Linked DNA regions of Homo sapiens: all the other regions are reported to be linked to region 3. The links are microRNA targets in miRTarBase. Many come from high-throughput screens and were not tested one by one. Region 3 holds a microRNA gene; each other region holds the end of a gene's coding sequence. Distances are between the middles of the regions.
What was found. Region 3 holds the annotated microRNA hsa-miR-6716-5p (UGGGAAUGGGGGUAAGGGCC, at 1,721-1,740, shown strand). A microRNA usually pairs through its seed, bases 2 to 8, with sites in the 3' UTR of a target mRNA and lowers its output. Matches are read on the target gene's strand: a 7mer-m8 pairs with bases 2 to 8, a 7mer-A1 pairs with bases 2 to 7 and ends in A, and an 8mer does both.

Region 1: miRTarBase lists KMT2A as a target of hsa-miR-6716-5p. Seed matches in the 3' UTR shown: 7mer-m8 at 2,123-2,129.
Region 2: the mRNA of MCC is a reported target of hsa-miR-6716-5p. The part of its 3' UTR that is shown has no 7-base or 8-base seed match.

What each region holds. Positions count from the first base shown.
Region 1 is chr11:118,521,678-118,525,002 of GRCh38, reverse strand. It overlaps KMT2A (lysine methyltransferase 2A), which reads right to left. Exons shown (of 36, transcript NM_001197104.2): 36 at 1-3,106. The coding sequence ends at 2,831. All of the region lies in intron 1 of TTC36-AS1 (TTC36 and KMT2A antisense RNA 1), which reads left to right. Among named protein-coding and RNA genes, the nearest start is that of TTC36, 4.1 kb to the left of the region's middle.
Region 2 is chr5:113,024,787-113,027,786 of GRCh38, reverse strand. MCC (MCC regulator of Wnt signaling pathway) reads left to right here. Exons shown (of 19, transcript NM_001085377.2): 19 at 305-3,000. The coding sequence ends at 485. Among named protein-coding and RNA genes, the nearest start is that of DCP2, 49 kb to the right of the region's middle.
Region 3 is chr11:118,642,295-118,645,640 of GRCh38, forward strand. MIR6716 (microRNA 6716) reads left to right here and starts at 1,706; the gene lies at 1,706-1,785. PHLDB1 (pleckstrin homology like domain family B member 1) reads left to right here. Exons shown (of 23, transcript NM_001144758.3): 13 at 1-100; 14 at 1,506-1,646; 15 at 1,778-1,880; 16 at 3,062-3,346. RefSeq lists an enhancer at 1,681-2,180.

The sequences.
Region 1 (3,325 bases), 120 kb from region 3:
AATTTCTCATTTTTGTGGTTGACAATTAGGGGGTGGAAAGGCAAGGCAAACCATCTGCAGCTGGCAGGAGAAGGAAGCTGTGGGTTCCTCCCCTGTCCTCAGGGTTTAGGGTTGGTAGAGAGTGAGGAGGGGCTCACAGTACAGCATGGCCTAGCAGGGCAGTAACTAGGTCTATTTAGCTGAGTTCCCCCCACCCCCTGACTGGCCTTTGGGTCTTTCTCAAGGTGAATTCAGGACCCATCAGTGCATTAATCATTTCAGTAACAAATGCAGCTTAAGGTTTTTTTTTTTTCTTTAAAAAAAATAGGAATACAAGGATTTACAAAAAAACCTCACACAGTGCAATAATAAAGGAAAGCAGACACTAGTGGAACCCCTAGGGCCACTGCATCTTGTTCATGGGCAAAAGGAGGAAGGGAGGTGAGGTCTGGGTAGAGTGCTTTTCCCAGTCCCCTGCTGGCACTTCTCCATGATGACAAGGAAGTCTCTGCCATCCTGGCCACAGTGCTGGGCTCCCTGCATGACAGTGAAAACAGTGACAATGTTCCAGCAAAGCCACCAGACAAAGTTCTTAAGGTCACAGGAGAGAAGGGAGCCCAGGATGGAAGGCACAGCAGAGCCATGAGTCCTGGGGCAGAGAGTGCTGGGCTGAGTCGTATTGCTTTGCTAGACTTCCATAGGAATGGGCTTCTTGCGGCGAGAAAAGGGTGCCCCACCCTCTACTTGGACTACACTACTCTGAAACCTTGTGGCAGAGGCAGAGAAAAATCTGCTTTATCGTGAGTGGTCAGACTGTGCTTCAGTTTCAACAGGCTGCCCCAAAAGAGGGCACAAGGTGATCAATGGGTTCTCTGCAGATATGAGGACTTGGTGGGCAGAGGGAAAGGAAAGAGTGGCCTATGAGGCAGATGGTGATGCAAAAATGTCAAGTTGCCATTCAACTTGTTGTTTGCTAACTCTGAAGTAAGAAAGATGAGGGAAATGTAAAGATTGCCGTCTCCCACCACTCTGGAAGTTGCGCCGGAAAGGAGAGAGGCGGGAAAGAAGAGAATCTGTTGTATCAAGATATTACTGTAGCCTTTTGAGGAGCTTCAATAGGGGAAGGAGGGGAGTGGCCCAATGGAGTTGGGTGACCTTCCTTCTCCATTTATTGTCAAAGAGCAAACCCAGGAAACATTTATGTCAACAGGGCACAAACAAGCTACACATTAAACAACAAAAAGTACACCTTCCAGGGGGAAGTTGGGCAGGAAAAACCAGACTTTGTGTGTACAGCTGAATATTTTCTCTAACTTCATCCTATGAAAATAAAAAATTATTAAAAACCGATCTTCTTTTAAATTAGGATAATACCGCGGTTTAAAAAATAGCCTTGTCATAAGTGCTTCTCCCTATGAAGTGCTTCTCATAGAAAAATATACAAAATATATTTACATTTATAAAACCTTAAATAGTAAACTGTAAACAGAACAGAGTAAAATCCAATGACTTAATTTAACAGGTTCAGGACTCTGTCTTGGGGAAAGGAAGAGAAGAAACATTTGATGCTGTTTTGACCACATCCTAAGGAGTAATCAGGGCAGTAGTGTCATTGAATTTACTTTAGCTGTGGGTTGCACGCAGGTGGCAGAGTTCCCTCAACATAAGGTGGTCTAGTCCCCAAGTTGTGGGCCTTGAAATCTGATTAGTGTTCTGCCTTCAACTGGACACTGACCGTTTAAAAATTAAGTCTTCCTATGTCTTAACAAGGGGAAAATAAAGTAACCATGTCTTAGGAATGGGACCCAAGGGTCATCCTGGCTGTGATACTCTCGTTGTTGCATGATTTAAATCCTATTTAAATAATCTTTTTCCTCTCCTACAAAATCATGCTACATATGTTTCTTTAAAACTCTCCATGGAGCTTTATGAAAATGTTTCCAAATTCTGTCTGGTTATGACCAATGGCTCCTGTCCACTTCCCCACCTGGAGTGCTTACAGGCTCAGGGAACTTTTTGCAGGCACATCCTATGCCCAGCAGGGAGTGTCCTTGAGCAGGCAGTCAGTCTCCCCTACAACCCGAAAGAAGCATGGGAAAGCAGTGGCATGAAGACAGGGGAAAGGAAGAAAAGGGAGTGAAGAGGGAATGGGAGAGGGAAGCCGCTCCTACTGTCAAGAAAGGTAATTGGCTGAGATAAGGCTCCTGGGGGCAACACTCCCACTCAAAGCCTGCAGGCTCAATGTTTGGTAATTAATTGGCACAACCCCATGACAGCCTTTTGACACCGGAGGTGCTAGGAATCCTGTCTCCCAACCAGAAGTGAACTCTCGAGTGGGAGGATAGTAGGGAAAACCACCAGACCTCTGTTTGTTCGACAGACGCTGTAGGTGGGGCCTGGCTGGCAAACTGTCAGGAATCTAACCAACCCTCCATTTGGGGCTTTGCCTGACCCACTCACTTACAGTGCTTGGGAAAGGGCCAACCTGAGGATGGCAACTTATTTCTGTGGAGAAATTCAGGCCCAATCTCCCAACATAACCAACCCTCTATAATAGGCTCCTTCCAGGCAAGTCTGCTAGGGACCCCATTCCCACTTTCTAACAGTAAACAATTGGAGGGGCCCCAGGAGAAAGCCGATCATGGATCTTTTCTTCGAGACCTCAACTCTGTCTCTGGGACTATGATCACATGTCTGATGTGAGTATAGGACATAAGAGAGCTCAGCCATCACAGAGGCCCCTCAGCTGTGCCACGCAATCCGGGAGCTCCCAGCTGCTGGAAAAGGCCTTCAGCGTTGCTTTGGATGGCCCCGCCTCCTTGCACTCCAACACTGGGGGAGAAGAGCAGCTTTAGTTTAGGAACTTCCGGCATTTCTTGGCGCCACAGTTGCAGGGCAGCTTGTTGCTGGCATCCTCAATGGGGAACTTATAGTCGTAAGTGAGTTCCTCTCCTCGGTAGATCTTACGCATGGCAAAGATGACAATGTGCTTCTGCCCATCAATATTGATGACCCGAGAATAGCAGTTAGGCTCACACGAGTGATTGATGAAGCGTGCAGCATTTCCATGCATGGTGGCATCCACTACCTCTGAGTCATCAATTCGGAACATATAGCAACCAATGCCCTGCACATGCAGAAGAAGGGAGAAGAACTTGTCATTTCTTATAAACTCAGCTTTAAGAACATGTCCCAATCTTCTCTTGATGTTACCTATAGCGGCTGAGAAAGTTTCTTCTAGTAAAATTTCCAGATTTCTCCCAGTACTATCTTTCAAGATGCTTCCACGAGGATTTCCTAGATTACAGGCCACTAGTCTAGAGGTTTCTAATGTCTCTGCAGGAGA
Region 2 (3,000 bases), not on the chromosome of region 3:
TTGGACTGGGCCAATTTGGATTGCTGGTTTGACTCTTAGAACCCCTTCTAATATGTGAGAGTGACCAGCCTCTAGCAATCCGGCTGGATTCATCAGGGTTAAGCCAGTAGGTGACTGGCCGTTGAGTGTTGACATCCTGGTGCTGTCCCTCCTCTGACCACTAGATTTCAGATTCTTACCGAAGAGGATGAGTGATCTTTCTTCAGAGCAGTGCTCACTAGATCTGGTTATCCAGTGGACAGGATGGTGTCACGATGCTACTTAGGATGAATCTTAATACCAATTTCCCTTCATTCCCACCTAGCAACCTGGTGGCTGCCTATGAGAAAGCAAAGAAAAAGCATCAAAACAAACTGAAGAAGTTAGAGTCGCAGATGATGGCCATGGTGGAGAGACATGAGACCCAAGTGAGGATGCTCAAGCAAAGAATAGCTCTGCTAGAGGAGGAGAACTCCAGGCCACACACCAATGAAACTTCGCTTTAATCAGCACTCACGCACCGGAGTTCTGCCCATGGGAAGTAAACTGCAGCAGGCCACTGGGGACAGAAGGGCCCATGTACTTGTTGGGAGGAGGAGGAAAGGGAAGGCTGGCAGGTAGGTCGGCACTTGGACAATGGAGTGCCCCAACTCAACCCTTGGGGCGACTGGCCATGGTGACATTGTGGACTGTATCCAGAGGTGCCCGCTCTTCCCTCCTGGGCCCACAACAGCGTGTAAACACATGTTCTGTGCCTGCTCAGCAGAGCCTCGTTTCTGCTTTCAGCACTCACTCTCCCCCTCCTCTTCTGGTCTGGCGGCTGTGCATCAGTGGGATCCCAGACATTTGTTTCTGTAAGATTTTCCATTGTATCCTCTTTTTGGTAGATGCTGGGCTCATCTTCTAGAATCTCGTTTCTCCTCTTTCCTCCTGCTTCATGGGAAAACAGACCTGTGTGTGCCTCCAGCATTTAAAAGGACTGCTGATTTGTTTACTACAGCAAGGCTTTGGTTTCCAAGTCCCGGGTCTCAACTTTAAGATAGAGGCGGCCATAAGAGGTGATCTCTGGGAGTTATAGGTCATGGGAAGAGCGTAGACAGGTGTTACTTACAGTCCCAGATACACTAAAGTTACAAACAGACCACCACCAGGACTGTGCCTGAACAATTTTGTATTGAGAGAATAAAAACTTCCTTCAATCTTCATTTTGGAGGCAGGGCTGGGAAGGGAGCGCTCTCTTGATTCTGGGATTTCTCCCTCTCAGTGGAGCCTTATTAATATCCAAGACTTAGAGCTGGGAATCTTTTTGATACCTGTAGTGGAACTAAAATTCTGTCAGGGGTTTCTTCAAGAGCTGAGAAACATTATTAGCACTTCCCGCCCCAGGGCACTACATAATTGCTGTTCTGCTGAATCAAATCTCTTCCACATGGGTGCATTTGTAGCTCTGGACCTGTCTCTACCTAAGGACAAGACACTGAGGAGATACTGAACATTTTGCAAAACTTATCACGCCTACTTAAGAGTGCTGTGTAACCCCCAGTTCAAGACTTAGCTCCTGTTGTCATGACGGGGACAGAGTGAGGGAATGGTAGTTAAGGCTTCTTTTTTGCCCCCAGATACATGGTGATGGTTAGCATATGGTGCTTAAAAGGTTAAATTTCAAGCAAAATGCTTACAGGGCTAGGCAGTACCAAAGTAACTGAATTATTTCAGGAAGGTCTTCAATCTTAAAACAAATTCATTATTCTTTTTCAGTTTTACCTCTTCTCTCTCAGTTCTACACTGATACACTTGAAGGACCATTTACTGTTTTTTTCTGTAGCACCAGAGAATCCATCCAAAGTTCCCTATGAAAAATGTGTTCCATTGCCATAGCTGACTACAAATTAAAGTTGAGGAGGTTTCTGCATAGAGTCTTTATGTCCATAAGCTACGGGTAGGTCTATTTTCAGAGCATGATACAAATTCCACAGCCTTCTGTTCGCTGGAGGATACTCCAGCCACCAGTTCGGAGGGCAGACAGCTGTATCCTAAAAGCAACCACTGAGAGGCCAGCAGTGAGGCTGCCCATCTCCAAAACGAAACAACAGATCAACTGGTATCAGTCTAGAAGGACCAGCTTTGGGGTGCTTTGATCACTATGAAAATGTTCACTGGTTTCTGTCAATCATTTGGTCAAAGTTAGTTCCTGTGATTTTTTTTTTTTTTTTTTGAGATGGAGTTTTGCTCGTCACCAGGCTGAAGTGCAGTGGCGTGATCTTGGCTCACTGCAACCTCTGCCTCCTGAGTAGCTGGAATTACAGGTGCCCGCCACCATACCCAGCTAGTTTTTTTGTATTTTTAGTAGAGACAGGGTTTCACCATGTTGGCCAGGCTGGTCTCGAACTCCTGACCACTGATCCACCCACCTCGGCCTCCCAAAGTGCTGGGATTACAGGCATGAGCCAATGTGCCTGGCCATTCCTGTGATTTTTTAGAATTTTTCACTTTTCATATAAAGTTGCATTTTATCATGAGGAAAATGTTTTGGCTGAAAAACATATGCCCCAAAAAAAAAAAAATCAGTTTTCACTATTTTTCCAGCTTGCCTAGGGAAACGTCCTCCCCTGAGCAAAGTGGGATGTGCATGGCTCTTTTTTGTGATTAAGCAGGCATCAAATGGGCAGTTTTCATTTTCACTGACACAGAAACATGTGGCTGAAGCAGGAATAAAATCCTGCCTACTGACTTCTGTCTCCATTCTTGCTCCAGGTAAAATCAGAGAACCTCCCCTTCTCTGAGAATTCCCCCAGGCAGAGGCGGCTCCAGCTCCTGTTAAGGGCCCCAGTTTTACTCATGCTACCTGACCTTAGTTTTAGTACTTTCAAATGTGATTTGGGTAAAAACTATTTTGCAGGCAAAAGTGTTAATTTTTTATAAATATGTATAATAAAAAAGCTATAAAAGTTTTTCCTTTTCTTGTATTTTTCAAATACTCCCCAAGACACAATCCTTGAAGGTGAACTAGGTGGCACTTGA
Region 3 (3,346 bases):
GTACCAGGAGCTGATGGCCGGGCTGGGGACTGGCCCCGCTGCAGCCTCCCCTCACTCTTCTCCCCCGCCTCTGCCCGCCAAAGCTTCCCGTCAGCTGCAGGTAACCCCTCCTTCACTGCCCGTCCTCCCCAGCCTTTGCACCTGTCCACTCTGATACCTCCTGCCAATCCATCAGCCACACAGTACCACCTTGAGTGGAGGCGTCAGCCCAGTCAGGGCAATGAGGGCACCTCTGGGCCCTGAGAGGGTCACTCCTTGGGCAGCCATCCTGGCATGTGGGCAACCGGGGGGCCAGCCTCCATAGTCTAAAACTATCTGATTGAGTGTCTGGTGGAAGAGGATTCTGGAGCTGTGGTCAGTTTGGGATCTGTTTGGTGCCCTGTGCTGAGCTAGGCTGTGGGTCTGGCCTATGCTTGGCAGCCCCCAACACCTGGAGCTTCTCACCCAGTCTGGGGGCCTGACAGGCTCTTGGGCCTGTGGCAACTGGAACTAGTGTGTCCTGGGAAGAACTGCCAGTATTTTGTTCTCCTGGTCTCTCCAGCAGTGACACTTGGAAGCAGAAAACAAAGGGCAAAGACTCTGAAGTGACAGCCTAAGCCTCCTCAGAGTTGCCATGGAGGGCGTGGGCCTACCTGAACCTGCAGCAAGCAACTGACCATGGGGTGGGAAAGGGGGCTGGGCTAGTCTTCTCCTCAGGTTTCCTCCACTGACCAGCTGCAGTGCCTAAGATTGACCATTTAAGATCACCCCTTGAGTGAAGGCACTGCATCTGTAAGACTGTGACCTCAGCTAAAATTTCATGTTTCCTTGGGGAGGAGTTTGATCATGTAAGACTTCTACTGTGTACCCAGCTGGTTAGAGATTTTAACGTGTTTTGATTCTCTGATCATCATCATAGGCCTTTGAGGTAGATGAAGTTAACTCATTTTATAGATGAAACACTGGGGCCTAGAGAAGATAAGTAATCTCTCCAAGGCCACACAGCTAGGAAGTAGCAGAGCTTATGCCACGTCAGGGTTTGTGACACTAAAGGCCATATTCACCACATGCTAGTGCTGCAGGGGAGCTTGGCCATTATTTAGTCTAGTCCTACCCCCTTCTTTTGCAGATAAGGAAGCCAAGGCCCAGAGTAGGGAGGTGTGTGGCCCAAGGTCACACAGCCTGTTAGTGGCAGAGCTAGGACCAGAGGGAACCCAGCTTCTAGTTGGTCTCCTGCACAACTGCCTGACTGACATTAAATCCTTGCATGGGTCTGTTTACAGGTCTTTTCTTAGACCCAGGGTTGGGCTAGGGATTGGCCCAGGGAGGAACAGCCTGGAAAGGAGAATTGGCAGCTGCCAATAGCATCTGGCCATTGGGCTGGCTCAGGAGGCTTGTTGTCAGAGCCAGAAGGCCTCAGAGGCCTAGTGCCAGGGCGGTACGTCAGATCACAGCAGACTAGGTGACATGGGGGAGGTGGCCAATGGGGGAGCCAGGAATCACTGGGCACTATCTTTTCTTTCCAGGTTTACCGCTCCAAGATGGATGGCGAGGCCACCAGCCCCCTTCCCCGGACCCGCAGCGGCCCCCTCCCCTCCTCCTCTGGCTCTTCCTCCTCCTCCTCCCAGCTCAGCGTGGCTACCCTGGGGCGTAGCCCCTCCCCAAAGGTCTGAGGACAGTGGGTGGGGCTGCACATGTGGCTGGGGATGGAGACTTCCACCCTGGGGAGAGGCCAAGACCTTGGGAATGGGGGTAAGGGCCTTCTGAGCCCAGGTCCGAACTCTCCATTCCTCTGCAGAGCGCTCTACTCACCCAGAATGGCACGGGCAGCCTTCCTCGCAACCTGGCAGCCACACTGCAGGACATCGAGACCAAGCGCCAACTAGCTCTGCAGCAGAAGGGTGAGTGACTGCCCCGCCAGCCCACCTGCTCTCCTGAGGGGACCCTGGGTAGTTGCCATGCCTCCTCTATGCTCACACCTTTCACAGGATGTTTTTCCTTTAATTGGGATCTAGGCAAGACCAGAAAGGATTTAGAGTGGGTACCTAAAGAAGAGCTTCCTGGATATTTATCTAAAGCCTTCAGGGCAGGAGACTAAGGGCTTAGGGGGCTGTGACATCTTTCCTAGAGAGCCTAGCCAATAAGGGAACTGCTTGTTGACCTGAGTCGGGTTAGACATTGCCCTCTCTGGAGGGAGGGGATGGATTTGATGACTTCTAGAAATGGTTGCCTGAGATATTGGCTCTGGGGACCCAGGAGTCCTTGTTGCTTGTGTGCAATTTGGTTGTTTTGAAAGCCCATGTCTGTGCCTCTCTCTCCTCTTACCCCCTCTGTGTCTCTACCGTACCCTCTGCCTGGGGTCCCCCACGCCAGTCGAGTCGCTTCCCGCCGAGCCCCTCCCAACCGACGACCCAGCAGGTAGAACGTTGGTCATAGAGGGCATTGCTTTGGCCAGGCAGCCCCTGCCCTGGCATCAGCATGATGTGTCCTGCCCAGGTCCCCACTGCCTGCAGGCAGGGTCCCAGGCTGAGCTGGGTTGGGGTGTCTGCTGGCCTCACCCCTCCAGCTGGCCTCTCTTCTGCCCTCATCTGTGCTCTACCGTGTCTCCCCTGCCTTCTTTCTTGCGTTTGTTGCTTTTGCTTCTGCATTGCAGGGGGGTCTGCATTGGCAGTCTGGGTGCTCATGGGGTTTCTGCCATCTCTTCCTTCTCCCTTCTCCAGCAGGCAGGGTGGGTGCATGTATCCTGCCTAGACCTACTTAGGCCTTGGTTGTGAGCTGGAGCCAACTGGCTGTCGTGCTGCCCCAGCACTACTTGGGTAGGTTTGGTGTCCTATATGGACTCAGGGTGCGAAAGAGCACTGAAGCCAGACTGTGCATCTGTGGCCGGTTGTGCAGGCGACTGAAGCATTGGCAGAGCAGCCAGGCCTGGAGCTGCAGGGGCCTTAGGGAAGCTGCGGGGAGAGGGGGCTGCTCTGTGTTAACCTCTCCCTGCTTGCCCCTCCCTCTGTGTGTTGTGCTGCCAGTGGCCTGCTCCTTAGCTGCGTGGGGAGCCCACTGTGACTCCCATCTGTCTCTCCTTCAGGACAACAAGTGATTGAAGAGCAGCGGCGGCGACTGGCTGAGCTGAAGCAGAAAGCGGCAGCTGAGGCACAGTGCCAGTGGGATGCCCTTCACGGGGCAGCACCCTTCCCAGCGGGCCCCTCGGGCTTCCCCCCTCTCATGCACCACTCTATCCTACACCACCTGCCTGCGGGGCGGGAGCGTGGGGAGGAGGGTGAGCACGCCTATGATACGCTGAGTCTGGAGAGCTCTGACAGCATGGAGACCAGCATCTCCACCGGGGGCAACTCGGCCTGCTCCCCTGACA